5 linked regions of the Homo sapiens genome follow. The protein of the gene in region 1 purifies or fractionates together with the protein of each later gene. This does not show direct contact. Each region holds a gene or a part of one and is shown in the gene's direction. Other genes may lie near its edges. The genes, in order: BCAP29, PACC1, EPB41, SLC37A3 and ECI1.

Region 1 (6,200 bases):
ACTTACCCATCTCCACTCTGACATATTCTTCTCTTACAAATTTGTCTGTATAAAAATAGGCTGAGTAGATAGCTCTACAATCAGAACATAATGGTTTTCTAATTAATATCATCCTCAGAACTGTTTTTTTCCCTTAGATTTACATTTCTCATTAATTGAGGAAGAAAGACTGACGTTATTTACCTAAATACTTTTGAGAATATTATTTTAATCACAGCAACTAGAAATTCTTATGTTCATTTTACAGATTTTGCCATAATAGGAAATCTTTTTTGTGTGTTTCCCAAATATTAAGTTTCTGTTAGCAAAAGTACATTGTAGAAAACTATAAAATTCTGAAAAGGACAAAGAATAAATTATAAACAGGTAAGTTTAGATAGGTTACTCAGCTTATTTTCTGTAAGAATGTCTGGCTATTGCAATCTAAGCTTATTTCTTCCTGTATCTCCTTTTGCAATAGATTTTGAAAAGCCATGGTAAAGATGAAGAATGTGTTTTGGAAGCAGAAAATAAAAAACTAGTAGAAGACCAGGAGAAACTGAAAACTGAATTAAGGAAGACTTCAGATGGTAACTTTGTGTACATGTGAAAAAGTAAAAAGACTAGCATGATATTTTATGCTGTACACTTCACTGTTTTTCCTAAAACAAAACTAATGCCTAAATGTTCTTCTAAGATACCGAGAATGACCTATTTATAAATTCTTGTTCAAATATGAAGATAAAACATTATGTCAGCCAAGAGAAACATGCTCTGTTATACAGAAAAACATGTAGGTGTTTCAGATCTGTGTTGTAAATACAGATGTTCTTGCCTTAGCAAAAGAGCTGTGTTCCTAAAAAGTTGTTTATAAATGTGTTTTTATAAAAAGAATCACATTTTTCCATCATCGTATATTCCTCCTCTCAGAGAAGCAATTGTAGGGGAACAGTTTTCTTACAAGAAAATATATTGTTTATTTCAAGCACTAATATATTCTACCTGTTAGACATAAGGAAAGCGTTCCTTGAAAGAGGTGGGTAGGCACAGAGTAGGCAACAATATCTGGGATGTCAGCTAAGAATTTGAGTGCCTCCTTCCCACATAACATTGCAGTGTAGGCTTGAAGTGGAGCATCCCAACTCCATTTTCCTGAAGGCAGCAATTTCTTCTACATTAAAAAAAAAAGTTTTGCTAGTGTTTTTTTCTTAGTCAAAGAACAAATTATTTTTGTTGCATCTGCACAGCACAGAAAAGTAGATAACCCAAATTCAGTGTCATCCAAGAAAACTCAGTGTAAGTTTGTGGCTTGATGATTTGCAACATTTCTGCATACAACAGATAGTTTTTTATGTTGGCCAGACACTGAGAAACCTCACTTTCAGTTGGTGTTAAGGTACGTTGTTTGGATAGGGTTTACTTCAATCAGGGTGTATTTGAATTTGAGATGAAAAACATAAAAATAAAAGCTAATTCTGTGAATAGAACAGAAATCCACTGGAGAATATTTATGTGATACAAAATTCTTTAGTCACGTTCCTCCTTATTATTTCAAGTGAAAAAAAGAAGACAGTTCAGAAGCAATAAGTTAAAAAATAAATTACCCTTATAGACAAAGTGGTATATTATGTAGTTGGCATAGTATAGCCCAAAATTCAAGAATCTTCTAGTTGGTACTGTTGCCTTTTCTGTAATTCCAAAAGATTTCGAACATGATCAAGAAATGTTATTGTTTATATGAAAATGAATTTAATAGTTACCTACCGTTTACAACAGACATTTCAGAAGAGAAACTAGTGTTCTTTTTTAACCCTGCATAAAATATTGCTACCAATTCTTTTGAAGAATGAAACCATCTATTTCCAAAACACAAAAATATTCTTTCAAAATCCTGCTTTCTTTTTTCTGTATCCACCAAGAATCTCTTTTCTTATGTTGTAAGCAGGGTGGCACAAAAATAAAAGATAGACAAGAGTGTATGTGTGCTACACTTCTCTTAACCCTGCACAATTGAGTTTCTCCTTTCACCTTTCAAAAATTCCAGCTCTGAGATATTTTGAGTTTTAACTCTTTAAATCTGGCATAAAACTTAACTTAGTATTACATGAGCATTTCTTTAAAAGACAAAATCAGATTTTAGAAAAAATGAACTCTTTGACAATGTAAGCATTGTGTTTACAATCTGATAACAACTGATACCAGCTTCTGTGTTTGAAGTATAGACTGCAGAGCTACTTTCAAAGTGAATTAGTGTTCAGGTAAAGGCAGATTTTACCTGTTCGAGTGTGTCCTGTTTGGTTCCAGCAAGACATATAATATTTTATGAACATGTTTTATTTACCCTAAGTTTTTTTAAAAAATAACATTTGTAATGACCTTGAGAAGATCAGAGTTCCGTTTCTAAAGAAGGTGTTTCCTTGGTCATGTTCTGTTGACCTAAACCAGTTAAATTCAGTAAGGTAAGAACTAAGAAAATATATCAATTAATAGTGCATGATTTGGATGAATTCAGTGGTACAATGCTTTGTGCACAGTACCACTCAAAAATGTTCATTGATTTCTAAATATTGAGGGTGTTAAGGTGACAAGGCTTAAGAAAGATTTAGAAAGAGATCTTACATTTGAAAATTGAGTTAAAAAAAAGCAATTTTTTTTTTTAGAGGAAAATAGGGTGTTTTCCATATGAATTTTCTTATCCTTTGTGTTACTTAAATCTAAGTGAAACATTTTCTCCCAAGTGTATTATTGGAAACAAAACGTAAATACAAATGTTTATTTAAGCTAGTTAGCCCCAAATTTAAAAAGTGGCATTCTGAAGGCAGCTACTGAGAACACTCTATCAGTAGTGGCAAACACCTTCAGTTTTTAACCTCCAACTCCTATTTTGACCAAAGTTTGTAAACTATTACCGGTGCTTCCGTGCAGTAATATCACCCTAGCACAGACATTGCATTTAGTGGAAAAACCTTCTGATGTCCAAAGAGATTGATTTTAAAGGTCTCTTCCAGGAAAACTACTTATTTTCATAAATGAATACCTTCTTTTATTCTTTTTTTTTTTTTTTTTTTTTTTTGAGATGAAGTCTCACTCTGTCGCCCAGGCTGGAGTGCAGTGGTGGGATCTGGCTCACTGCAAGCTCTGCCTCCCGGGTTCACGCCATTCTCCAGCCTCAGCCTCCCAAGTAGCTGGGACTACAGGCGCCTGCCGCCACGCCTGGCTAATTTTTTTGTATTTTTAGTAGAGATGGGGTTTCCCCATGTTAGCCAGGATGGTCTCAATCTCCTGACCTTGTGATCTGCCCGCGTCGGCCTCCCAAAGTGCTGGGATTACAGGTGTGAGCTACTGCGCCCGGTCTCCTTTATTCTTATAACTAGAAATATGTAGCATTCAGTCATTGTATGCATCCAAGCAATGATAAAAGTAAATATCGTTTAAAAAGTGATTGAGCTGCATGTGGAAATGTCTGTTCTTCATTCTTTTAGGAGCAGGAATACATATAGATATAAAAAACATCCCATATTTTAAAAGGAATTCTTAGGGCTTGCCAATCTTGTAGTAAAGGTTGAATTAGCAGTATATGTCTTCTACATAAAGGAAAAGAGAAAACAGTAATTGGGGGAAATTTCTTGACCATGCCTTTCTTCTGTTTGTTCCTGCTTTCCTTTGTTCCTTCTTTGTTTCATCAGCAATTTTTTTTTTTTTTTTTTTTTGAGACAGAGTCTCACTGTCACCCAGGTGGGAGTGCAGTGGTGCAGTCTTGGCTTACTGCAACCTCGAACTCCTGGACTCAGGAGATCCTCCCGCCTCAGCCTCCTGAGTAGCTGGGACTACATGTGTGCACCACCATGCCCGCCTAATTTTTTTGATTTTTTGTAAAGACAGGGTCTCGCTTTGCTACTTAGTCTGGTCTTGAACTTCTGGCTTCAAGCCCTTCCTCCTCAGCCTCCAAAAACGCTGGGATTACAGGCATGAACTGCTGTGCCTGGGCCTCAGCAATTTTTAAAAGAACTTTTCAAGTAATTCAGTCGTTGTAAAGTCATTTAATGTGGAGCATAATTAACACTTTCCTTAAAAAGTGTGCCTCTTGAGGATAAAGCAAACTTTAAATAAATTTCTTAAAGCATATACTAACAATCAGAAACTGAGTGTAAAGACCTATTATGGGTACCTAAGTATTAGCAGCACGCAATAGAGATACTAGATTTGGACCAGGAAACAGAACCCTTAGTCCCCTACTTAAAATAATGATAATTCAACTCTCTTCCTGGATAAATGCTTTCATATCACCTTGACTTACGTTGAACAAAACTAAAATTACCTTTTGCAGACCAACTTTGATACCCTTGAAGATGTTAAGTTTTTTTTACTTTTTATTGCCAGTTAACATAGGGACCAGATAGTGAAAAATAGCTGAAGTGTTTTTCCAGAGAAATTGGAGATCAAGACAAGATAGAAAATTACAGGGGAATTGCTGATCTGTATACCCAAAACCCTAAATTCCTGCCTCTTCAGTGTTAAGAATAAGACATAAGCTTTGTATACAAGTTTAAAACCATATGATTTCCAGTTTCTTACAAATGAACCATATATTCATCTAAAAATAAATTCTAAGTTTACCCTAAGCATGTTTTACAGTTGTAAATTTTTGTGGACGTGAACTTAGTTATCTTTTACTTACAGTTATATCAAAGCCCCCAGCTTATTTTAAAATTATTAATGCTTAAAAACAGTTTGCTGTTTTTAGTCATTTTGTTGTTGTTGTTGTTGTTGTTTTTTTTTTTTTGCTTTGTTGCCTTTTAATGCACTTTTGTGATTTAAATAAGAAAAAAACATATTATTTGTTTTCATGTCTGGAAGTTTCTGTTTCTTTGACACCTTTGTCCCTTCTTGTATCAACTGAAAAAAAAAACTGCATTAAGAAAGAATAATATAGTTTATTTGATGGTTGTGCCAGTAGGCAATATATAATTAATAGTATTTTAATTATTTAAAGTAAATAAAACTCATGACCAATCCTTTTAGTTAGGTAAATAAAGGATTTATTAGTATTTATTAGTTCATCTCTGTGTTATCTTCACATATTGATGTTATTGTCAAAACAGAAAAAAGGGTTTGCTTGCTATCAGAGTACTTTTCTTGGACTAATATATAATGATGATATTGCATCCTGTTTGGTTCCCTGTTACATTCCCATTTAGTTGTGATGTTTCCCTTTCTTGTGAGCTTCTTATCTGTTATCAAGGCCTATACTCATAAACTATGTGTCTTTCAGTAACCAGGAGGAATAGCTATAGGGAAGATATTAAGACAGAAATTCAAAGATACCTTATATATTATTCACAGTACTAGCAAACATAACGATATCTACCCTGAGGAGAAGCTTTTATAATCTCCACAGAGGGACATTAAAGCAAGAGAAAACAGTTTGTTCTCAGAAGAGCTTGTAGTCCAGATGGTAAACCAAACATATGTCCATAAAGGGATTCATTTCCTCCCCAGTGTGAAACATGGGCTAGTCTACCAAAAACATGAGTGGAGAGTGCTAAATGCATACTGAATCAAGGAATGTTCCAGGTGTTAAAGATGTAATCAAGCACAATTCTCTAAATGTGTTGATGGACATAGAATGGCAGAAAAATGAGTGAAATGATACTACTGTTCTGAGTGAGAAGAGCAAAGCAAAAAGCAGAGTGGTCTGTTTGAAGTCGATGTGTCACACTAGGTGCAGTGAATGATTGTGCTGTATGGTTGAGGGGTCCATTGATGTAGCCCCTAAAAGATCGAAGGAGATAATTACTTTGAATGCCTTGGTGTTCTTTTCTACTGTCTTATTCCATACCTAGATATGCATGTTTACTACAATCCTTCATGGTAAATACTTTTCTAATGATATCAGCTTATGGCAGGTTCATGTTTATGGCCAAGTGAGTTACAAAAATTAAACTGTACAACTCTAGTTTTAAAACACTTTCAATTAGGAAAAAACACTAAACTATTAATAGTGGTTTTCCTTAGCATGTACAACAAATGACTTTTTCCTAGAGTTTAAATTATTTTCTACAATGAATTTCTTTTGCTTAATGAAAAAGATAGCTTTTTATTGTAAAAAGAATTTAAAAATAAAAATAAAAAACCTCTTCCAAATACCCAGGTAATCTAGGGCGGTAGTTTTTTGGCTTGAATTATCTAATTAATTGGCTGTATTCCAACTTTACTTTGTT
Region 2 (6,200 bases), on another chromosome or scaffold:
ACCAGGGACAGTGCTTTCTGTTGCACACTTAAAACAAAATGGTACAGAAAGGTTGAAAAATAAATAGATGGACAAAGCTGTCTTGAGAAGATGCAACGAAAACCAGAAGTGACAATATTAATAGTGTGGAATTCCACGTGCAAAAGTTTGCAAGAAGGATGTTTAATATTGATAAGAGGTTCAACTCCATACTCTCCACTAAGACGACTGAACAGTTCCAAAACTTTATGTACAAAACAGCATGACATTTATATATTTTAAGCAAAACCCGTTAGAAGTAAAAAATACCATCACTTTAGAGCACGATTTAAACACCCCTCTCAGAAATTCACAGATCAAATAGACAAAAACTAGAAAGGATAAGAATTGAATAGTGCAGTTAATAAATTTAGAGTATGTATGTGTGTGTATACATGTGGGGGCACAAAACTTTGTAACTGACAGTGTACTCACTCTTTTTCAAATCTCTGTAGAGCATTTATTTATAAAAGTTGATGTAAAAGACATTTTTTTCTAAAATTAATCTATAAATTCAGTTTCTATCACAGTTAAAAGTCCCAGTGAATTTTTTTGTGGAACTAAGCAAGCTAGTCTTAAAGCATACTTAGAACACGTTCAAAAATAACCAAGACAAGTTTGGGGATGGGGAAGAGTAGTAGGGAGAGCACCTTCCCAGATCTCAGAACAGTGGAAAAACCACAGGAATCAAAGTGGCACAGTACTGGACAGAGACAGACAAATGTGTGGGCTCTGCTAGGGCCAGAAGCAGACATAGATATTGGTTCTGCATGGAATTTAGTATAGGATAAAGGAGGGAGGGGAAGAGGCTTCAAAACCTGTCTCTATGCATTGTTTGGGAAGTAGGAGTTAGAGCCCTATTTCACACTATATACAGAGCTTAAAGCCAGGTATATAAAGTATCTAAATGTAAAAAAGATTAAAAAGTGCTATAAAGAAATAGAGGAGAATATTGATATAATTTTGGCTTTCCTCAGCAAGCAAAACCCAAAGCCGTAAAGAAAAGGATTTAAGGTTTTACTACGTTAAATTTAAAGTTTCCATAGGACAAATGACATTGGAAACAAAGTTAAAAGAAAAATGACAGACTGGAAGAAAAGATTGGCACACATAACAGATGAAAGTGATCATCCTTGCTAAATTAAGAGCTTCCATAACTCAAAGAACCAATGAGAAAAGTGGACAGAGGATGAGCTGCATTCAGCTCTGGTTGGGCATCATATGGGGAAAACTCCCCAGGAATGAGCATGAGTCCCAGCCCAGTCCTGTTGTTGGCTAGTGGTCCCTTTGGAGACCACTGGGCAAGGAGCTATGGGCTTTCCAGTCAGTACTTCTGCCCTCAGACCCAGAGGCCTCTGTGTACTCTCCCAGGACTGAGACTCTGTCCTTTTTCTCTCTGCAGAAATCTGCCCTGATTGTCCAGGGGCCCCGGGAAGTGAAAAAGCGGGAGCTGGTCTTCCTCCAGTTCCGCCTGAACAAGAGTAGTGAGGACTTCAGCGCCATTGATTACCTCCTCTTCTCTTCTTTCCAGGAGTTCCTGCAAAGGTGGGCTTTTAGAGTTCACAGTGGGCTTACTGTCTACTTTTTATCTTATTCCAGCTGTGTATGTCCCAAGGCTAGAGACGGAGGGGTGAGGGCAGGGAAGGGAAGGGGCATTCTCAGATGACCCACTGGCCCAGGAAGGGACCTCATGAGCTTGGCCGGTCCACTCAACATCTTATCACAAAGTTAAGCAAATCTGGTGTGGAGGAGCATGCTGGCTCTCCATGCACATAGTGCTGGCTGGTTCTAGAGAGATCATTTGGTCTCACCATTGCCTGGGGCTGCTGAGGAGTAGGGGAAGTTGCCTTTGATTTGTAAGTCCCTTTGAGAGCAAGTTCTTGTGTGGTTCCTTGGTTTCCCCCACAGTGTGCACAGGAACCACATCTTGCCCTTAGTGCGGGCTTAATGTATGTTTGCCTGAAATACAGTTGGTCCTTGAACAACTTGGGGTTTGGGGTTACCAAACTTAACCACTCCTGCCTATGCAGCCAAAAATTTGTGTATAACTTTTGACCCCCAAAACTACTAACAGCCTACTGTTGACAGAAGCCTTACCAATAACATAAACAACACATATTGCGTGGTTATATATATCATAGACTGTATTCTTACGATAAAGTAAACTAGAGAAAAAAAATGTTATTAAGAAAATCATGGCCAGGTGTGGTGGCTCACACCTGTAATCCTACCACTTTGGGAGGCCAAGGTGGGCGGATCACGAGGTCAGGAGATCGAGACCATCCTGGCTAACATGGTGAAACCCCATCTCTACTAAAAATACAAAAAATTAGCCAGGCGTGGTAGCGGGCACCTGTAGTCCCAGCTACTCAAGAGGTTGAGGCAGGAGAACCGATTGAACCCAGGAGGCAGAGTTTGCAGTGAGCTGAGATTGCGCCACTGCACTCCAGCCTGGGCAACAGAGCGAGACTCCAAAAAAAAAAAAAAGGAAATCATAAGGAAGAGAAAATATACTTACTATTCATTCAGTGGAAGTGATCATTGTAAAGGCCTTCATCCTCATCGCCTTCATGTTGAGTAGGCTGAGGAGGAGGTTTGGTCTTGCTGTCTCAGGAGTGGCAGAGGCAAAAGAAAATCCGCACGTGAGTGGACCCAGCCAGTTCAAACCTGTGTTGTTCAAGGGTCTACTGCATCTCTGGTATGAGGATATAAGCTCTGCCACCTCTCTTAGTCTTCGATTTACAGTGATGAATGTCCCCTGACCATCAGAAAGTTCTTGTCTGCTCCACACACACTGCTTTGGGGTCACACCGTGGAGCCTAGAGGGCAGGAGAATTTTCTTCATGTGCCTGAGTTGAGAGGGACTCAGTTCCTACCAGGTCCTGCTGAGCCCAGAGGCTCCATTCAGAGCAAGCAGGGAGGCAGCTACAGGGGCAGGGAGGCTGCTCCCCAGCTGGACATGCAGCGAGCTGCCTCCATTCCACACCACCACTGCTTTGTTCTTCCACCCCAGAGCTCGGAGCCTCTGCCTTAGCATTTTCCACCCTTTCTGCCACCTAGAATTCCCTCTCCCTTCCCTGCTTCAAGCTGGCCATCTTGCCTTCCTCCTGGAAGACTTTCCCCGGGATCCCACCCCCACTCCACGCTCCTTTCGTGAGCTTCCTCGGTATGCTGCTGCAGTTTTTACTTGTTTTTATGTTCGCTTTGATTTTGCTGCATCTGCACCGTCTTGGGGCTGATGCTGTAGGTGACCCATCTGGCTGAGACCTCCCCAAGGAACCCTCTTCCCCTCTTTGGGCCTTCCATGGGAGCTGACAGGCTGGTGAGGGCTTCCTCAGGCTCTGCTGAAGTCCAGAGTTCTCTGAGGAGCTGTGAGCGCCATGTTCTGGGGAGCTTCTGCCAACTTCATTGCCGACAGCTTTGGTAGCCATCGATAGGAATGATGGGAGGAGGGAGGAAGATTTCTCCCACTGGGAGCTTCAAGGATCATGTTCCTGCCTTGAGGCCAGTGACTACCCCTCCATTTGGAAACCAAATGGAGAGAAAAGAGGGATGGGCCTTGCTTTTGCTGGTGACTGACAGCCCTGTTGAGGCAATCACAATTTGGAGAGGAGGCAGGGAGTGGGCAGCATCCTGGTTGTGCCAGCAAAGAAACCAGCTTGCAGTGGGGGCTTCGACTCCTGCTGCCAGACCTGCATTGACCTGGATCTTCCTTCTCCTTCCTTCCTCCAAGCCCAAACAGGGTAGGCTTCATGCAGGCCTGTGAGAGTGCCTATTCCAGCTGGAAGTTCTCTGGGGGCTTCCGCACCTGGGTCAAGATGTCACTGGTAAAGACCAAGGAGGAGGATGGGCGGGAAGCAGTGGAGTTCCGGCAGGAGGTAGGTGGCTCTGGGTTTGCTTGAAACTGCTGGTGACTTTTCCACATTCGAGTCTGAGGTGGAGGGAAGCTTTGCAGAGAAGGCTCCTTTGAGCAGGGCCTTAAGGGTGAGTAGGCCTTGGTCAGGATGAGAAGGGACTCCCATGGAGGGCTTCATATGCTATGCCAGGGAGTCTGTGTGTGCTTCTGCAGGCAGCGCACATACCGGCCAGTCCTCACGGAATGCATGTGTGGGGCAGAGATCATTGTGGCTTGCAGAGAGGTCAGTAACTCGCCCAGCTGTGTCTGATGTCTTGCATCTAGCAGCACTTTGAGGGGCTGGCAGTGGCCTAGCAGATTGATTATTTGCAGGGAAGAGAGACTAGACACAGTGGTCCCAAGTGTGCATGTTGATCCTTTTCCTAAGGTCCTCTTCAGCTCTCACAGGTGTCACAGCGAGAGATGCCAGGTGTATCTCCTGGCTGCTAGGCCAGTGGGCTGAAAGCTTTTTGATCAGATTTCCCATTAGTAAAAACTTTTTGATCATATACTCCATATACATATAACTCTGCAGGTGATATAACATACTATTATTGTCTTAGTGTTATATACACTTTAAACATTCAAAAATAGAAATGTTAAAAGGATGAGATAAAAATAAATAGTAAAAAAAGCTAGTCTTTTCTTCTTGTATCCCAGTGGCTCGGGATGCTCATCTGGAGCAGAAGGACACACTCCAGTCAACTAGGCCATCACTGGCCAGAAGTTAGGCCGGAGAAGACTGTCTTGGGTTAGTCTTAAACAGGGCCCTGTCATGAGCCCTAGCTCCTCAGACTAGTCCAGGCTGGTTACTTGGAAGAGGCTCAAAGCCAGTTTTCTTCAAGGAAGCAAGGCTATTTTTCCTGCCTTGGGAAGTGACAACCCCTCCTGGTGACTGGACCTTAAAATCTTCCTGTTTTGTAAGATAACTGTCATCTCCCAGATTTTTACCTCCAAATTTGCTCCAAGAAATTCAAGTCCTTTCTTATCTGGCCCCACAGCAGCTCTGAGGAAGGAGACTGTGTTCACTTACCTTACAATTAAGTTCAACCCCATCTACCCTGGATTTTCTGATAGCTCCCACTGTGATCCGAAACCAAAGGGTGAAAACTCTAGTGAACCTGTACATTAAAGAAATTTTAGCATCTTTTATTACTGTCTAAATTGGAAGTCTTTTGTTGGCATTATGAGCTCTTTTGAACAAAACTAAAAAATGTGTTTTAAAATCACATTTTAGAGTTTAGAGTGCTCTCACATAGGTATGCCCCTATACTGTAGTGACGTAGGCATTTTGTTCAGCTTTGTGGGTGGCAAAGCTGAGGCTCAGCTTCGATGATGGATCTGAGCCTCTGGGTGGAGCTGGTTTCTGCCTTTGTTACCTGTCTGCTCTCCGTTACACCACACAGCGTCTTTAGTAATTGACAACCAGATCTCACCAAGCACACCTACTAAGTATTTACAGGGAATGCTCAGCTGTGTGGATCTATGCAGCTGTGCTTTGTCCCTGTAAACTTGAAGGGTTGAAACAAGCGTTGAAAATTCAGAGAAATACTTGATCTGAAAACCAAGTACTTTGAAATTTGGAATTTTTATTGCTTTTAATTGTGAGTCTTACATGGTAGTTTGAATATGGTTTATTTTTAATATTTTATTTTTTTTGGAGACAGAGTCTTGCTCTGTCCCCCAGGCTAGAGTGCAGTGGCACTATTTCGGCTCACTGCAACCTCTGCCTCCCAGATTCAAGCGATTCTCCTGCCTCAGCCTCCTGAGTAGCTGGGATTGCAGGCGCCCACCACTACACCTGGCTAATTTTTGTATTTTCAGTAGAGACAGGGCTTAACCATGTTGACCAGGCTGGTCTCAAACTCCTGACCTCAGGTGATCTGCCTGGCTAGGCCTCACAAAGTGTTGGGATTACAGACGTGAGCCAACATGCCTGGCCTGAATATGGTTTAATTGTGAGTACAGATACCTAGTGACAAATTTCAGTGACAATCCAAAACACCTATTGTAAATCACAGATCCCATTTCCCCAGAGAACTGTGGAAACCAAGGTAAAGCCTTGGCTTTGCTACCAATGTCAGGATCTTGTATATATGAGATTTTTGCCACTCTCTCTCCAAAAAATAGTGTGAGGAGAACCACAGACTATGATCCCCTGCCTACTCTCTCTCCTTTCGCTGGGCACAGGCAAGGGAAGGGCACACAGAGGTGGTAACACTGCTTTCTCTCCTCCACATCTAGACAAGTGTGGTTAACTACATTGACCAGAGGCCAGCTGCCAAAA
Region 3 (6,200 bases), on another chromosome or scaffold:
GGCACGTGCCTTTGGTGGTCCCAGCTACTCAGGAGGCTGAGGTGGGAGGATTGCTTGAGCCCAGGAGGTAGAGGCTGCAGTGAGCCTAGATTGCACCACTGCACTCCAGCCTGGGTGACAGTTGAGACTCTGTCTTAAAAAAAAAAAAAAAAAAGAAAAAAGTTGTTCTGGATTATTTTGGGCTGGGTACTACAACTTCTATGAATCTCTAAAGTATATTGTAGGAAGATCAGTACATCAGATTAGGTATGTTTCTAAAACTGAAATGGTTAGATTTTGCTTCACAATTCCTGCTGGAAGCTGGTGTCAATTCAGGTATTGATGGAGTCAGGCAGCATGTTCCCTTCCCAAATATTGTAAAGCAAATTGTTTCTCCAAAGTGAAATGTAGTTATACCCACAAGCTTTAAAAATTTAAGAGGGCATCTTCTGGGAAATTCTCAGTTACATAGTCACTGAATTGGAACTGTATGTAATTCCTGCTTCTCTGTTATAACACGTGTAGGCACTAATATATTTCTCTATACTCATTTTGGGGGAAAGAGTAGTCAAGAAGCATTTAACTTTGTGTTTTGATTACTTAGCTAAACAAACTGTTAGCTGTAGGGACTAACTTAGGTGAAATTTATTTTCTTTGAATTATAGACATAGATGATTAATATTACATATTTAATTTTTTAAAGTTGTCTTTAATAAAGAGGCATATAAATATGATTTCATTGTGCCTTAATGTAACTTCTTGACTTAGGGATCATATTTTTAATTTAATATACTTAACATCAATTTTAAGAACCTAAGATTGTCTTATGCTGAGTTTATATAGGAATAGAGTCAACTCCTACATTTAACATCATTTCTGGAGCTGTTAACACTTTATCATAAAAAAACAAGAATTAATAATTGTGCGTGTATATTTGGTAGTATACATAGCTCTAAGCCCTGCTCTCCAGGAAGTCATGACTGCTGATTTAAACATAATAGGTCCATAAATTATAACTGTTAGGCTGAGCTTTATTTTTCATTGTATGTTTTGTAACTGTTTTTGGTTGTTATCTTCAGATTATCTAGTAATAGTCAACAGTGTATTGAGTACTTTGCTCCAGACTGAAATCCTAACATTTTTCTTTTTCAGGACTTGGAAGGAGTAGATATCATCCTAGGTGTCTGCTCTAGTGGCCTTCTGGTTTACAAAGATAAGCTGAGAATTAACCGCTTCCCTTGGCCCAAAGTGCTGAAGATTTCTTATAAACGTAGTAGCTTTTTCATCAAGATTCGGCCTGGAGAGGTACAGAATTTATATTTCCTTCCTCCCAAACCAGACACAGTCTGTATCTGAAATATCTACATTTCCATTTTCCTTATTAAGTCATCTGAGAAGTCTCTCTATAGTTAACTATTGAAGGGCTGATAATTCCGTTTTCTAAGTTGATCAGTCCTGTGATGCTACTTCTTTTCCTTACTACTGGTCTTCTGGACATTTCACTTTTTGTAAGTAAATATACCATTGCAAAAAGTTAAACTTGGACTGATACATTTGTTCCTTGTTTACGCCAAGCAAAAACTTAATGGAAAAATATTTTTAAATTGAGTAGCATGAGATTTTAAAATTATTTATAGGGATAAATTACTCATGTTTGGCATCACCAATCCTTTATCTCATATAATTAAAATTTATTTGTATGCATAGCTTCTCGTGGTTACTGAGAGTGAGTTCTAGGGCCAAGTTCTAGATTTTTAATAAGAGTTGGATGTTCAACTTTGTACCAGTTAATTCATTTATTAGTTGGTTTGGGGATATACTAATGCTGGCCAAATTTAACTTTTGTATTGAAGAGCCATTATGGAATAGCATAAAATTGTTTAAGTAGGAATTAAAGTTTTTTAAAAAGTTCTGACTTCTTTTCTGCCACATACTAAGCAAAAGACCTGGACAAATCTAAGGCTCAGCTTCCTTGTCATTTGGGCAGGATAATACCTTCTCCATCATAGTTATTTGAAGATCAAATGAGATGACAGCTGTGTAAGTTCTATATAGGAAATGATACTAACCTAAGGTGGCTTTTGTGTGTATATATCACCATCTGCTGGTGAATAATGGCTAATTATTTGTGCCTGCAAATTCTGGATGTGGAGCCTTAAAAATCTTGGATAGGGATTACCATAGAAGCATTTATTTTGTACCATAATTATTTTACCTATGCCTAGCACAGAGCAGTCAGTGTCTTCCCTTAAAATTTCAAATTCAAGAGTTATTCAATCAACAAATATTTATTGAGAGCTTTCCTGTGTTGGACACTATTCTAGGGACTAGGAATATAACAGCAAATTAGAATCTCATCCCTCACACACGTTAATATGAAAATGGGAAATCCTTAGCTTCTAAAAATGTAGAATTCTTATTTAGAAGGCAATCAGGAACAACAGGATTTTGAGAAAAAGTATTGTGGCAGCAGTAGATGATTTAGCAGTGGCATGGTATGGTGAAGAGGGTAAAAATCTGGTTCTGTCATTTCATAGCTGTCAGTCTGAGCAAATAACTTCTCTGACCTCAGTTTCTTCATGTCTAAAAATATAGATGATATTATCTAATCATAGTGTTACTGGCAATAGTAGGCACTCAAAATAAATGTCAGTTTCCTTTCCATCTTATAAAATATGCTTAAAGTAGAAATAAAGAGGCAAGAGGTCAGCAGGACAGTGTTTCTAGTAACCCTGGGAGAATATGTTTTGCTTCAGTATAAGAGGAATCTAGATAAATTAATGATCAATCAAAGGAAAAAAGAAATATTTAATGATTCAAGAATCTGAGGAATAAGTTCAAGAGATCTATTGTACAACATGGTGACTATCATTAATAACAATGTATTGTTCTCTTGAAAAATTGCTAAGAGACTAGATTTTAAGTTTTCTCACCACAAAAAAATAATAAGTGTGTCAGGTAATACATATGTTAATCAGCTCAATTTAGCCATTTCACAATGTATACGTGTTTCTTGGGTTTGTTTGTTTGTTGTTTTTTTTTTTTTTTTTTTTTTTTGGAAGAAGAAGTCTCGCTTTGTCACCCAGGCTGGAGTGCAGTGGCGCCATCTCAGCTCACCGCAACCTCTACCTCTCAGGTTCAAGTGATTCTCCTACCTCAGCCTCCTGAGTAGCTGGAATTACAGGCGCGTGCCACCATGCCCGGCTAATTTTTTTTGTATTTTTAGTAGAAATGAGGTTTCACCATGTTGGTCAGGCTGGTCTTGAACTCCTGACCTTGTGATCTGCCCACCTCGGCCTCCCAAAGTGCTGGGATTACAGGCGTAAGCCACCGTGCCTGGCAGGTATACATATTTCAAAACAACATGTTGTAGATGATAAGTATGTACAATTTTTATTTGTCAATTTAAAAAATTGATTTAAAAATCTGGCTTGAACTAAAATCTTTAGCTCCTATTACTAATTTCTATTGCATAATAATATTGATTGATTGGAGGACTTGGTCAATATCCCATTCCCTGTTCATTGAACAGTGTCCCAAATGCAGATAGTGACTAAGGAAAAGCAGTGTCTGGACAATCAAGAGGTGACTTAATTGTGTCTCAGAAAAATGTATAATGAATGTGTGTGTGTTTTCTGGAAAAAAAAAAAAAAGCTTAAATTATATGAGATGCATTCCCTGGCTTTCTTGCTTTGGAAAAAGCCACCCTCAGTGAGTGAATTTCTTTCAGTAAGTAGGAAAAAATTCCAAATGACATTTTATGTCCTTAAATTGGTAACAATGGCCTCTTCTGTGGCACCATATTTCTCTGGTACTGTATCACTGTAATCTGGTACTGTATCACATGTAATACTTCATGTCCCATGTTTATTTGTGTTTTTGTAGCAAGAGCAGTATGAAAGTACCATCGGATTCAAACTTCCCAGTTACCGAGCAGCTAAGAAATTATGGAAAGTCTGTGTAGAACATCACACGTTTTTCAGGTATTATTCTCACTTAAGTATTTTTCAAGGATAAATTATTTATAACGTTTCTATTTTAAGCCTGCTATTAAAATTCCTTTCATTGTATGACTGGCACTCTTTTATTTAGCTCAGGTGAGATCATCTTAAGCAAGACAAAATGAATCCATTTCTCTCCCTTTGGGTTGAAAAGTATGCCTCAACATTTCCAAAGCACCTGTCTGTGTATGGTAGAAGGAAGAGAGGAGTAAGGAATGGGAACCTGTATTTACCAGGGACTCTGGGATTGCATTAATTGTAGCTAAAGTCAGTCCGATTAAGGGGAGTTACCCTCACTTACCTCCACGTGTGATTTTTTTTTTTTTTTTTTTTTTGAGACGGAGTTTCGCTCTTGTTGCCCAGGCTGGAGTGCCGTGGCGCGATCTCGGCTCACTGCAACCTCCGCCTCCCGGGTTCAAGTGATTCTCCTGCCTCAGCCTCCTAAGTAGCTGGGATTACAGGCACCCGCCATCATGCCCAGCTAATTTTTTGTATTTTTAATAGAGACACGCTTTCACTATGTTGGTCAGGGTGGTCTCAAACTCCTGACCTCAGGTGATCCACTTGCCTTGGCCTCCCAATGTGCTGGGATTACAGGCATGAACCACTGTGCCCGGACGGAATTTTTATTTTTTTGTTTTTGCTAATTTTTTTTTCCACATGGAATTTCTCTAAGCAATGCTTGACTACTTTTTGTGGAGCTTTTATACTATAAGGTTAAAGATGTGAAGCTGATTTTTTTTTTTTTTTTTCGAGACAGAGTCTCGCTCTGTCGCCCAGGCTGGAGTGCAGTGGCGGATCTCGGCTCACTGCAAACTCCTACTCCTGGGTTCAAGCAATTCTCCTGCCCCAGTCTCCTGAGCAGCTGGGATTACAGGTGCACACCACCATACCTAGCTAGTTTTTGTTTTTGTATTTTTAGTAGAGACGAGGTTTCACTGTGTTAGCCAGGATGATCTCGATCTCCTGACCTCATGATCTGCCCACCTCGGCCTCCCAAAGTGCTGGGATTACAGGTGTGAGCCACCGTGCCTGGCCAACCTTGAAGCTGATTGTTAGCTTCACTCTAATGAAACCCAGAAAGGGAGCACACAGAACCATATTTGAAGCCCAATAGTACCCGATAATCAGAAGACAGAAGAAAGTATTTCCTCTGCTGTTTGTTTGTTTGTGATGGAGTCTTGCTCTGTTGCCAGGCTGGAGTGCAGTCTGTGATCCTGGCTCACTGCTCCTGGGTTCCAGTGATTCTCCTGCCTCAGCCTCCCAAGTAGCTGGGATTACAGATGCCCAACATCACGCCTGGCTATTTTTTGTATTTTTAGTAGAGATGGAGTTTCACTACGTTGACCAGGCTGGTCTCGAACTCCTGACCTCAAGTGATCTGCTCGCCTCGGCCTCCCAGAGTGCTGGGATTACAGGCGTGAGCCACTGTGCCAAGAGGCCATATTATTAACCCCTTGAGTTCGTTTACCAAGCATTTTCTATGTGCTTACCCTTCTTGTATGCACCATGTTAGGCATTGGGAATATACTACAAGATAGTTCTAGTCTCTCTCCTGGTGGAACACCCAGTCTAGTAGAGAAGACAGACCTTAGACAAGTAATTACTTGTATTGAAAGGAAAGTTGGCTATTTATCAGTTTGCCTTTTTTTTTTTTTTGAGACAGAGTCTCACTCTGTTGCCCAGGCTGTAGTGCAGTGGCGCAATGCCTCAACCTCCCAAGTAGCTGGGACTATAGATGCATACCACCATGCCCAGCTAATTTTTAAATTTTTAGTAGAGACCGGGTTTCACCATATTGACCAGGCTGGTCTCGAACTCCTGACAAGTGATCCACTCGCCTTGGCCTCTCAAAGTGCTGTGATTACAGGCGTGAGCCACTGCACTCGGCCCAGTTTGCCTTTTTAAGAACGTTTCTTTATTATGGAAAATTTCATATGTAGCAACAGTACAATAAAATCCCCTTGTACTTATCACCCAGCTTCAATAATTATCACCCCAAAGCCAATCTTGTTTCTTCTATATCCCTATCCACTCCTTCCCCCTACTTCCGAGATTATTTTGAAGCAAATCCCAGGCCTCACGTCATTTCATTCATAAATAAACTTGATTCTTTAAGAGAAAGAGAGAGAGAGATAATCCTGATATCTTTTCCTTCTATTTATATTTTCATATAATAGCACTATAGCACAGTCAACGAGAAGAAAATTCAAGGAAATT
Region 4 (5,840 bases), about 33 Mb from region 1:
AAGCACTTACTTAAGTCACTTCAGCAAAACTGTTGATTGCTTTTAAAGGCTCCTTTGTGAAAAGTAACATTTTATTAGTCTAAAAGACATCTTCTTCTTCTTCTTCTTCTTTTTTTTTTTTTTTTTTTTTGAGGCAGAGTCTCGCTCTGTTGCCCAGGCTGAAGTGTGGTGGCGTGATCTTGGCTCACTGCAGCCTCTGCCTCCCGGGTTCAAGCGATTCTCCCACCTCAGCCTCCCGAGTAGCTGGGATTACAGGCGCCTGCCACCACACCCGGCTAATTTTTGTATTTTTAGTAGAGATGGGGTTTCACCATATTGGCCAGGCTGGTCTTGAACTTCTGACCTCAGGTGATCCACCCGACTCGGCCTCCCAAAGTGCTGGGATTACAGGCAGGAGCCACTGCGCCTGACTTCACATTCTTCTTTGTGAGGAAGAAAAAGGCTCTCAGTTTGCTCTTGACCTGAGTCTAATGAATATTGCCATTTATGATTTCAGAAAAACAAGAAGAGACTTATTTAAAGTATCACCAGCCCCTAATCAGTATACTCTTCTAGGCTACCCTCTATCTGCTGAATATAATATAGGAATTCTGAAGTAAATTACAATGTATACCAAGCAACACTTGAGTTAAAAGAGAAGCATTGCTGTAATCAACACTGTCATGTTTCCCGGTTCTAAAATGTTGATAGTTTCTTGAGGAAATATTTATGATGCCCTAGACATTCTTGGCTGGGATTCTCTACTTTCTTGGAAATAGCCAATACAGAGTAAGGCCTTGTTTATTTTTATTTATTTATTTTTTTGAGACAGGTCTCATTCTGTCACCCAGGCTGGAGTGCAGTGGCACGATCACAGCTCACTACAGCCTTGACCTCCTGGGCTCAGGTGATCTTGGGCTCAGGGGGTCCTCCCACCTCAGCCTCCTGATTACCTGGGACTATAGGTGTGTGCCACCATGCCTGGTAACTTTTTGAATTTTTCCTAGAGGTGGTTTCACCATGTTGCCCAGGCTGGTCTCAAACTCCTGAGGCTTTGTGCTTTTAAAATATTGCTCTCTGTTATGAGCTGTGACATACTCAGGCACGTTATTGTGGGACAGTGCTCAAGACAGGTCTACCTGAGAGAGTCTGGAAGGCACCAGGGACGCATTCAGTATCCTGTCCCCAAATCCAGGGCACTGTAATTGAAGGCAGCTTCCACCACCCGTACTCCAGGCAGCTGTCCTCTTGCTGTGGTCAAGGAGCCCCAGGATAGTCCAGCTCCAGGAATACCTTGGAGCTTTCATCTAATTCCCATCTAGCTTCTAAAGACTGGGCCCATGTAACTTGTGTTCCATTTCTGACATCCATGCTAAGTAGAGGGAAGTATCTTGTGATGAACTTTCTGATGTGATCATACTAGGAACTGTAGTAGAAAGAAAACTTTTATCTATTATAAGGATCACTGTTGTTCATCTGAGCCTCTGGTCTCAGTTCTCTGCTCCGCCTATGGCAAATTATTTGTATGTATTGTTCTTTTTTTGGGAACTGAAATGTGATGTTGAGTGTTTTGTAATATTAGCCATAATTTTCAAAATCATTTTCTAATTCATTGAAGATTAAACATTATCTTTGTATGAAGTCAAAATGAATGTAATTGTCCAAATCCATTATTATGTTCAAAACATGACACTCTAACAGAAGTAAACTGTTGCTGCATATTTAATACTATTTTCTCTTTACAGACAAGTTGTACAATTGTGTTTATCTCGCCATTAATAGTGAGGGAAATATTCTCTCTCGTGCTAAGGAGACAGGCTCACATATTGAGGGAGTGACCGGTGCCCGCGAGACAGAAAGAACAATGTCAGCCACATCAGGACCGCTGGGGCTTCGAGTCTGCCCTAATTTGGGTTTGTCTAGGAGCTCCAGCCTGATCTTGGATTGTCAGGCGTCTCTCAACACTGCCAGCCACCTGAGATGCTGACCAGCAGTGAAGGCTGCACTAGTTTTCTACACTACAGGAATTACTGTTGATGATTTTTGCTGTTGTTTCATGAATGTGCCGAGTGACTTCTGACTCTGCCAGCATCTTTGACCTCTGACTCTGCCCGCGTCTTTGTTTGGCCTATTGAGGTTTAGCGTTTTAACCTTAACTGTTGTTTTGGACTTGAACTTTCTCTAGCCTTGAAAATGGAGTGAACAGGAGGCAAAGCCACGCGTGGTTTGTGTTGGTGGTATGTTCCACAAATGGAAGAGATCATTGCATTTTGCTTTGGTAATGAGTTTACAGAGAGTGGGTCATCTTTGAAGCATCAAATCCTGATCAAATGCTCAAGCTGGACCGAGCTGCAAGCCTGCCTTGGACAAAGAATCCCTCTGTTCACTGTGGTGGGAAAGATCACACTACATGCCTGTTGATTGGCTCAGTCACTCTGTGTCTGATCTAAACGTCATTCAGCCCTAGAAGCATGAATTGCTTCAAATTATTGTCAACTTGTTCTCTTCCATTTTCATTCAAATTAACTTTGACTCCTGGAAGTATTGAGTCTTCCTTTCAAGGACCATAAGGTACATCAGTTATCTTGAACATTCTGACGTGTAAAGGACCATAAGGTACATCATTTATCTTGAACATTCCGACGTGTAACTCACAGCCGAAGCACTCCATCCCAGATTTGTTGTCTGGGAACTTAGGATCCTCTAGGAAGCTAATCTGCTTAGTCTATTTTTAGAGGATTGATCTCTGGCACAAGCAGCTTCCTGGAGTTACCTCAGCAGAAGACTAGAATTAGAGAAAAGGGAAAGACCTTTTCTTCTAGTAAGTGTCAAGTACAGATGCTCTTTGACTTATGATGGGGTTATGTCCCAGTAAACCCATTGGAAGTCAAATGCATTTAATACCCCTGACTGGACACCACAGCTTAGCCTCGTCCACCCTAAATGTACTCAGAACACTTAGAATTGCCCACAGTTGGGCAGAATCATCTAACACAAACTCTATTTTATAATCGAGTGTTGAATATATCATGTAATTTATTGAATATTGTACATTATGTTGAAATTGCAACCATTTCACACCATTGTAAAGTCCAAAAATCAGAAGCTGAGGACTGTCTGTACATGACATTGAATCACATGAATGGATTACTAGGGCCTGAGGGGTGTCCGTTCTTTAGAAAAATGTAGAGTATATATATCTTCAGGGCTGTGAATTCCATACTAGTTATCAATATTTTAAGATCATTCTGTATATACATATTTTAAATTATGCAAGCAAACTAGGAGGAGAATGTGCAATTTTGAGGGATACCTAATTTGCATTCGGTTAGGGGATATTTTTCAACCTCTTGCTTTATACTCTGATATGGGGTGTGTTTATGAACTTGTTAATGTTATTTAATCATGCAGATTTCCAATCAGTGTATTGCTCATTTACTGACAAAAAGGGAAAATACGAAACACAGAAAGGGAAAATAAACTGACTTTTATAATGAATCTCCATTTCGTTACTTAAATCTATATACCATGAGCACTGAGATTTAGAATGTGATCGGTGCCCTCATGTTTCCTGATACTGAGCGCTCCCGGGTGAGCCCACGCTGACCCACAGCATTGCTGGGTCACGTGCTCCCTCACCTGAGGTGCTGGGGTGGCTTCATTTCCATCTGTTCTGTGAAAACTTGCCCTTTCCCACTGTGGAAGACTGTGCTCGGTTTGGATGAATTGCCCGGTTGTAAGTTAAGGGCCGTCTGTTTTCTCATTGAACCTCTTGGCTGGCGTTTGGCTCAGAGTTTCCTTTCCGGCTGCACTGTGGGTGTGGTCTCATCTTTGTGTCCCCACGCCAGCCAATGTTTTCTTACCCAGTTGAACCTTAGATCGGTGACTGTTCCCCTGACCTTTCTATGGCCCCCGAGCTGTACTGAAATGAAACCATTTAAAAAAATTTTTTTGAGACAAAAGTCTCGCTCTGTCACCCACACTGGAGTACAGTGGCACGATCATGGCTCACTGCACCCTTGACCTCCTGAAGTCAAAAGCGATCCTCCCGCCTCAGCTCCCAAGGAGCTGGGACTAGCCTCCCAAGTAGATGGACCGTGCGCCACCATGCCTGGCTAATTATTTTTAGTCTTTTTATTTTCTGTAGAGACGAAGTCTCACTGTTACCCAGGCTGGTCTCAAACTCCTGGGCTGAAGCGATCCTCCCACCTTGGCCTCCCCAAGTACTGGGATAACAGGCATGAGCCACTGGGCCTGCGTAAAATGAAATTACAAATCAATGCTCAGCACTGGACAACATGAAATAAGGATATATTCCCTTATTCTAGTTCTGCCAGTCTGCACAGGATTTAACTTTTTTTTTTTTTTTTTTTTTGAGATGGAGTCTCACTCTTGCCCAGGCTGGAGTGCACTGGTGCAATCTTGGCTCACTGCAACCTCCACCTCCCGGGTTCAAGCGATTCTCCTGCCTCAGCCTCCCAAGTAGCTGGGACTACTACGGGCACACGCCACCACGCCCAGCTAATTTTTGTATTTTTAGTAGAGATGGGGCTTCGCCATGTTGACCAGTCTGGTCTGTAACTCCTCAAGTGATCCACCTGCCTTGGTCTCCCAAATTGCTGGGATTACAGATGTGAGCCACCGTGCCCAGCCAGGATTTAACTTTGATGAACATCTAAGAGTTCACTTTATTTTCTTCTTAATATCTTCTCCCTTGAGAAGGGAAGAGAAAACCATAGTGAAAGCTAATTTGAAAATGCATCCTTTCCTCACAGCCAGATCGTCGATGCTCGCTAGGTTGAAATAAAATGCTGCGGTCTGCCTTTTCTTTTCAGAAGGTGGTTTTTTTTTTTCTTACAGTTTCAAAGGAGGAAATGTCTCTCCCTACTCCTGCTTATTCTGTCCTTTCCTGGTTCCCGAGGAACCAGAGTGCCACAGTCAGCATTCCTGCAGCAGTATTGGAGGAGCTGCTGTTCCTCATGATGTTCCGTGGGATGGAGAATGTGCAACGCTCTCAGTCCTTTGTGCCTCTTCCCTTTTCCCTTTTTTTTTTTCTTTTTTTGAGACAGGGTCTTGCTCTGTTGCCCAGGCTGGAGCGCAGTGGCACAATCATAGCTCACTGCAGCCTCAACCTCCTGGGCTCAAGCAGTTCTCCCACTTAAGCCCCACCCTGAGTAGCGAGGGCTACAGGTGCACACCACCACATTCAGCTAATTTTTTAAAATTTTTTTGTAGAAAAGGGGTTTCGCTGTGTTTCCCACGCTGGTCTTGAACTCCTGGGCTCAAGTGATCTGCCCACCTTGGCCTCCCAAAGTGCTGGGATTACTGGCATGAGCCACTGCACCCAGCCCCCTTCTTCAGAACCTCCAGAAGTCCTCCTGTCTCCCAAATCAATACACGGTAAAGCCTTTTCTTTTCCCTACTGGCTTTTCTGACTAATGTCCTAGTTTTCTTTTTGCAGCTAAACCCTTTGAGCTAATAGACAGTATCTGCTGCCTTCCCATCTATACTACTCATTTCCTCCTCAACTAGGTAGCTACCTGTCTATCTGTTGGCCCAGGACAGTCCTGACTTATACCTGTCATTCACCGTAATTATCAATGGCACTTCCTTTTGCTCTCCAAGTGTCCTGATTTGGACCCCTTATCTCTAGCCTCTGGCCTCTCATCACCCTACAGAAGCCATGCATTGAGGGTCATTGAATTTTGAGACTTTTTCCCCCCTCATCCCATATTTGTGCTTGACACCTGTAACCACTTCGTCTTTCCCAGGACTTTTTCTTCTTTGGCTTCTCTGGCATTTTAATTTATCGAATCTTCTTACTGACTATCCCTTTTCCTGGGTTCTCTCCTCTGCTCTGC
Region 5 (6,200 bases), on another chromosome or scaffold:
GATCACTTGGGTGCCCTGAGCCAGTCCTGCGAACAATACCCATGCTCTCTGATCCTCTGTGGGCCAGTCTTCAGGGCGAGTTCTCAAGGGTGAACCTCTTTGGTCTGAGTTCTTGTGCAGGGGACTCTAAATGTTGCCTGAGTGCTGGCGAACGCTAGGCGTGTCATCTGTGGGAACGGTGTCATTACCAACATCGCCGAGGGGCAGTAAGCAGTGTCAGGCCCAGGAGGATGGGACCCTTGAGGAGAAGCGGGCATTGGCTGAGGTGAGGGGAGTGAGGGGTCCTCGGAGGCTGGCGTGGCTTTACAGGGCCTGGCCTAGAACTCCTGACCTCAAGTGATCTGCCCACCTCGGCCTCCCAAAGTGCTGGCCACGTCCAGCCTTATATATTTATTGAGACAGAATCTCCCTCTCTTGCCCAGGCTGGAGTACAGTGACGTGATCTTGGCTTACTACAACCTCCGCCTCCTGGGTTCAAGCGATTCTTGAATCTTGAAAATTTTTAAAATTTTTGGGAGAGACAGTGCCTTTATTGCCCACGTTGGTCTTGAACTCCTGGGCTCAAGCACTCCTCCCACCTCGGCTCCCCAGTGTGCTAGGATTACAGGTGCGAGCCATTGCACCTGGTTAATTTTTTTGCTTAATTTTTACTTTTTTGTACAGGCGGGGTCTTGCTATGTTGCCCAGGCTGGTCTTGAACTCCTGGCCTCAAGCAGTTCTCCAATCTTGGCCTCCCAAAGCTCTGGGATTACAGGCATGAGCCACCACGCCAGGCCTGGGTTTTGAGTAACGGAAGTAGAACGCGTTTTGTAGAAACAAAGGACCGGCCTACCCATTCTGTGCGGCACCAGCTCACACCTGTTTGGGAACAGCGGAGCTGCGTTGCCCACCCGCACCGTTCCTGGCTTTTTCACATCGCCTGAGGATGTGGAGGCCATCCCATCTGTCCCAGCCGCCTCCTCCTCGCACACATTAGGTGGCTGTCGCCCTCCTTCCTGCAGACAGGGCGGGGTAAACATCCACCCAGCTCTGCTTGTGTGAGTCAGGGTGAGCTGGGTTCAGCTGCAGGAACAAGTTCACCCACAGCCTTGGGGGGTCTGGCCCTCGGGAGGAAAACGTGCCGTGTTGTGCAGAGGGGAAGGTACCCTTGTCATTTGCTCAGGGGGCTGTGACCATGCAGGGTCCCCAGGGTGGGTTCTCCACTCCTCCCCGAGCCCGCCTCCCTGGCCGGCAGCCCTGACTGGGAGTCTGAGGCTCCTGTGCTGGCGCCCGCTACTCCAGCCGTGGGAGGGTCCCTTCCACCTGTGCTCACCCCTCGCCCTTCCTTGGTAGCTGCTGAGAAACCCACACATTCCAGATCATTCTCCCACCCTAGCACTTCCTGGTCCACACGGGGGTCCCTGGCTTGCTTGGCCCTTTGCGGGTAAATGATTCAGAACGTGCAGCTCCTCTGGATTCTCAGGAGTCTTCACCACACCTCTGGGTTCTTCTGCCCGAGCCAGGCGTGCAGAGCCAGAGGGCCGGCGCACTTATGTCCCTGAGAGGTGCCTGGCGCTGCCTGTCCTCTCCTATCCAGTTTGAAGCGGGAAAGGGAAGAATGTTCTGGGAAGTACAGGGAAGCCAGGTCCAGGAGAAGCCTTGGCCGAGTCCCTGGAGCGCCTAGTCCTGGCTCTGTGGGGCAGCACCCACACCCTGAGCGTGACCTGGCCCTGCTGTGCGTCGTGCACCTGGGCTCCCCAGCCCTCCTGCTGTGATGCCAGCTGGGAGGTGGACTCTGATGGGCATGTGGCCCCGGCTCCCCCTGCAGGACCGCCCGGGTGTCTTCTCGGCCGGCCTGGACCTGACGGAGATGTGTGGGAGGAGCCCCGCCCACTACGCTGGGTACTGGAAGGCCGTTCAGGAGCTGTGGCTGCGGTTGTACCAGTCCAACCTGGTGCTGGTCTCCGCCATCAACGTGAGTGTCCCCACTCCCAGGTGGCCTCGCTGGCTGTTCTGGGCCAGCGCCAGGGGGTGGGACAGACACTGTCCTGCCCTTGGAATCTCTCACAGGGGAAGGGGACGGTTGGAGAGGCCCTGAGATGTGCACAGGTGAGCGCCATCGCAGACCACGGGGCGTGTTGAGAAAGGTGGGCCTCGGGTGAGGGCCCTGGCCTGGGTCAATCAGACAAGACCCAGAAAAGAGCCAGTGGGTAGGGACCAGGGCCTGGGGTTGATGCCAGCCTGGGTGGAGGCTGTGTGGGTGAGTGGGTGATCGGACCCACATTTTGGAAACATCACTCCATCCCTTCTGGGGGAAGGCCAGGGAAGCCGAGAACAACACGGGGGCTTAACCTCAGGAACCAGGGTGTCCTGCGGGGTGGCTGTGACAAGCCGGGTGTGGGCCGGAGCCTGGTGGAGGGGAGGGCTGGTGTGAGAGGAAGCCTCAAGGGTGCACGGCCATGCAGACAGGATGGGTCCTGCGCGGGGCAGTGGGTACCTGCAGTGACCACAGGGTGAGTGTGGGGTTCCCAGGACATCCTGGTTGCGCTAGCTGCTGGGGTGGTATCGGGGCCCCCTTGGGGCATGACAGTTATGACTAAATGCTTGTGTGGCATTTTAGCATTGAGTAAAAGCACTGAGAGGACAAGCGACTTGCTCCCCTAACTGAATGGTTTTTAAAAGTGATTTATCTGTTGCCGAAGAACTAATGACCCTCGGCTGAGGACGAGCCTCAGACCCTCCTTGCCGAGCGCTAAGGGGCCAGTTCCTTCCTCATCCATTTCCCAGTGCACACCCAGCCCAGCCCAGACCATTGTGGGTGTTGAACCCTGCGGGGGTCGGGGTGCGCCAAGGGCACAGGCCCTCCTTCCTTGGACCTGGCCCTCTGGAATGTGGTTGGGACCAGCAGCACCTAAGAGCCCTGTCCGGCCTCTCCCTGCAGGGAGCCTGCCCCGCTGGAGGCTGCCTGGTGGCCCTGACCTGTGACTACCGCATCCTGGCGGACAACCCCAGGTACTGCATAGGACTCAATGAGACCCAGCTGGGCATCATCGCCCCTTTCTGGTAAGGCCCTGGGCTGCAGCCACGCTCCATGCTTGTTGTGGAGGGAACAGACCCGCCTGGGGCCATGTGGTGAGTGGGTGTCTGCATTTCCAGGTTGAAAGACACCCTGGAGAACACCATCGGGCACCGGGCGGCGGAGCGTGCCCTGCAGCTGGGGCTGCTCTTCCCGCCGGCGGAGGCCCTGCAGGTGGGCATAGTGGACCAGGTGGTCCCGGAGGAGCAGGTGCAGAGCACTGCGCTGTCAGCGATAGCCCAGTGGATGGCCATTCCAGGTGAGGCACGGGGCATGGCGGGCGCCCGATGATGCTGGGGAGACCAGAAGGTTCTCCACCCAAAGGTTTTCTGTGGACATCGTGACTTCGGGAGACTGTTGATAATCACAGCCATGTGGGTGTCAGGAGGCTGCTGTAACAACGCAGCACAGACCGGGTGGCCCAGACCGCAGAAGCTCATCTCACGGTGCTGGAGACCAGAGGTGCAAAATCAAAGTGTGGGCAGGACTGCACTTCCTCCCTGCGTTCCAGGGAGGCTCCTTCCTGCCCCGCCCACTTCTGCTGGCTCCAGGCCTCCCTGGGCTTGTGGGCGCCTCGCTCTAATCTCTGCCTCCATCCTTACGCAGCTTTCTCCCCTGTGTTTCTGTGGGTCTCAGGTCTCTCTCTCCCTTCTCAGGACACCTGCCATGTGATTTAGGACCTACCTTAAATCCAAGATGATCCCAACTTAATTACATCTGCAGAGACTCTTTCCAAATAAGGTCACACTTCCAAGTTCCAGAGCAGTGGTTAGGGCTTGGACCTATCTTTTGGGGCACACTTTTCAACCTACTACAAAGACAATTGTCCACTTCATAGAAAAAGAGCTGGTCATATCAGCGATGGTATAGACCAGGGCCCAGCAAATTCTGTCTCTAAAGGGCCAGGTGGCTTGTGGGCTCTGTAGGTAAGACCTTTGTAGCAGAAAGCAGCCACAGAGGAGACGTAAACTGACAGGTATAGCTGTGTTCCGGCAAAGCTTTATGGACAGTGGGCCAGGTGCGGTGGCTCACGCCTGTAATCTCAGCACTTTGGGAGGCTGAGGCAGGCAGATCACTTGAGATCAGGAGTTCAAGACCAGCCTGGCCAACATGGTGAAACCCCATCTCTACTAAAAATACAGAAATGGGCCAGGCGCGGTGGCTCACACCTGTAATCCCAACATTTTAAGAGGCCGAGGCGGGCGGATCACAAGGTCAGGAGATCAAGACCATCCTGGCTAACACGGTGAAACCCTGTCTCTACTAAAAATACAAAAATTAGCCAGGTGTGGCGGCGGGCGCCTGTAGTCCCAGCTACTCGAGAGGCTGAGGCAGGAGGATGGCGTGAACCCGGGAGGCGGAGCTTGCAGTGAGCTGAGATCGCACCACTGTACTCTAGCCTGAGCAACAGAGAGCAGGACTCTGTCTCAAAAAAAAAAAAAAAAAATGAGCCGGGCGTGATGGCACGTGCCTGTAATTCCAGCTACTGGGAGGTTGAGGCAGGAGAATCGCTTGAACTTGGGAGGCAGAGGTTGCAGTGAGCCAAGATCATGCCATTGTACCCCAGCCTGGGTGACAGAGTGAGACTCTGTCTCAAAAACAACAAAAAAAATTTTATGGACACTGAAATTTGAGTTTCACATAATTTTCACATGTCACAAAATACTAACCTTCTTTTGATTTTCAACTATTCAAAAATGTAAAAACCAGCCCGGCACAGTGGCTGAAGCCTGTAATCCCAGCACTTTGAGAGGCCAAGGTGGGCGGATCACCTGAGGTCAGGAGTTTTAGACCAGCCTGGCCAACATGGCAAAACCCCGTCTCTACTAAAAATACAAAAATTAGCCGGGTGTGGGGGCAGGTACCTGTAATCCCAGCTACTTGGGAAGGCTGAGGCCGGAGAATCACTTGAACCTGGGAGGCGGAGGTTGCAGTGAGCCAAGATCATGCTACTGCGCTCCAGCCAGGACGACAGAGTGAGACTCCTCTCAAAAAAAGTAAAAACTATTCATAGCTTCAGGGCCTTGAGAAGCCAGATTTGCCAACCCTGATACAAATGACTGAAGGCTGTGCTGCCATTTCCTGTGCTGTAAGACAGTATTTAATATAGTGCCATGGAAATTTTTTTATTTTTATTTTATTTATTTTTTTTGAGATGGAGTCTCCCTCTTGCTCAGGCTGGAGTGCAGTGGTGCGATCTCAGCTCACTGCAACCTCCACCTCCTGGGTTCGTGCCATTCTCCTGCCTCAGCCTCCTGCGTCGTGGAAATATTCTTCATAATATAGTTGAGTGAAAATGACACGTTAAGTCGCTGGGCGCGGTGGCTCACACCTGCAATCCCGGCACTTTGGGAGGCCAAGGAGGGTGGATCACCTGAGGTCAGGAGTTCGAGATCAGCCTGACCAACATGGTGAAACCCCTTCTCTACTAAAAATACAAAAATTAGCCGGGCATGGTAATGCTCCTGTAATCCCAGCTACTCAGGAGGCTGAGGCAGGAGAAGTGCTTGAACTTGGGAGGCGGAGGTTGCAGTGAGCCAAGGTCACGCCACTGTAGTCCAGCCTGGGTGGCAGAGACAGACTCCATCTCAAAAATAAATAAATAAATAATACAAAATTAGCCAGGATGTGTGTGCACGCCTGTAGTCCCAGCTACTCAGGAGGCTGAGGTGAGAGGATCACCTGAGCCCAGGGATTCAAGGCTGCAGTGAGTCGTGATCACTAGTGCACTCCAGTATGGGCGACAGAGAATATCCTGTCTCTTTAAAAACAAAACAAAACAAAAAAAAATTAGGGCCGGGCGTGCTGGCTCATGCCTGGAATCCCAGCACTTGGGGAGGCCGAGATGGGTGGATCACCTGAGGTCAGGAGTTCGGGACCAGCCTGGCCAACATGAGGAAATCCCATCTCTACTAAAAATACAAAATTAGCCGGGTGTGGTGGCACACGGTTGTAATCCCAGCTACTCAAGAGGCTGAGGCAGGAGAATCACTTGAACTCGGGAGGCGGAGGTTGCAGTGAGCCAAGATCCCACCATTGCACTCCAGCCTGGGCGACAGAGCAAGACTCCGTCTCAAAAAATAAAAATAAAAAATAAGTTGGGAATCACCCCACTGCCCCTGAAAGTGGGATTTCAGTGGCACGT

The links.
Region 2: the proteins of BCAP29 (region 1) and PACC1 purify together in Homo sapiens (co-immunoprecipitation; one large-scale study listed by IntAct). This does not show direct contact.
Region 3: the proteins of BCAP29 (region 1) and EPB41 fractionate together in Homo sapiens (co-fractionation; one large-scale study listed by BioGRID). This does not show direct contact.
Region 4: the proteins of BCAP29 (region 1) and SLC37A3 fractionate together in Homo sapiens (co-fractionation; one large-scale study listed by BioGRID). This does not show direct contact.
Region 5: the proteins of BCAP29 (region 1) and ECI1 fractionate together in Homo sapiens (co-fractionation; one large-scale study listed by BioGRID). This does not show direct contact.

Annotation. Positions count from the first base shown.
Region 1 is NC_000007.14:107,599,937-107,606,136, forward strand, and holds part of BCAP29 (B-cell receptor-associated protein 29), read left to right. Parts: intron 1-247; exon of another isoform or gene 248-366; intron 367-460; coding exon 461-569; exon of another isoform or gene 570-593; intron 594-3,426; exon of another isoform or gene 3,427-3,571; intron 3,572-6,200. Other genes in the region: DUS4L-BCAP29 protein, read left to right, coding at 461-569. UniProt on the Homo sapiens protein: May play a role in anterograde transport of membrane proteins from the endoplasmic reticulum to the Golgi. May be involved in CASP8-mediated apoptosis.
Region 2 is NC_000001.11:212,375,258-212,381,457, reverse strand, and holds part of PACC1 (proton-activated chloride channel), read left to right. Parts: intron 1-1,420; coding exon 1,421-1,563; intron 1,564-3,751; coding exon 3,752-3,896; intron 3,897-4,573; exon of another isoform or gene 4,574-4,664; intron 4,665-6,157; coding exon 6,158-6,200. UniProt on the Homo sapiens protein: Chloride channel gated by pH that facilitates the entry of chloride ions into cells upon exposure to extracellular acidic pH. Involved in acidosis-induced cell death by mediating chloride influx and subsequent cell swelling.
Region 3 is NC_000001.11:29,031,962-29,038,161, forward strand, and holds part of EPB41 (protein 4.1), read left to right. Parts: intron 1-1,131; coding exon 1,132-1,284; intron 1,285-3,864; coding exon 3,865-3,962; intron 3,963-6,200. UniProt on the Homo sapiens protein: Protein 4.1 is a major structural element of the erythrocyte membrane skeleton. It plays a key role in regulating membrane physical properties of mechanical stability and deformability by stabilizing spectrin-actin interaction. Recruits DLG1 to membranes.
Region 4 is NC_000007.14:140,331,389-140,337,228, reverse strand, and holds the end of SLC37A3 (sugar phosphate exchanger 3), read left to right. Parts: intron 1-1,724; coding exon 1,725-1,817; coding exon of another isoform or gene 1,818-1,966; 3' UTR 1,967-3,477; downstream 3,478-5,840. UniProt on the Homo sapiens protein: Unlike the other SLC37 members, lacks glucose-6-phosphate antiporter activity.
Region 5 is NC_000016.10:2,240,160-2,246,359, reverse strand, and holds part of ECI1 (enoyl-CoA delta isomerase 1, mitochondrial isoform 1 precursor), read left to right. Parts: intron 1-1,807; coding exon 1,808-1,954; intron 1,955-2,920; coding exon 2,921-3,042; intron 3,043-3,135; coding exon 3,136-3,314; intron 3,315-4,541; exon of another isoform or gene 4,542-4,725; intron 4,726-5,269; exon of another isoform or gene 5,270-5,816; intron 5,817-6,200. UniProt on the Homo sapiens protein: Key enzyme of fatty acid beta-oxidation. Able to isomerize both 3-cis (3Z) and 3-trans (3E) double bonds into the 2-trans (2E) form in a range of enoyl-CoA species, with a preference for (3Z)-enoyl-CoAs over (3E)-enoyl-CoAs.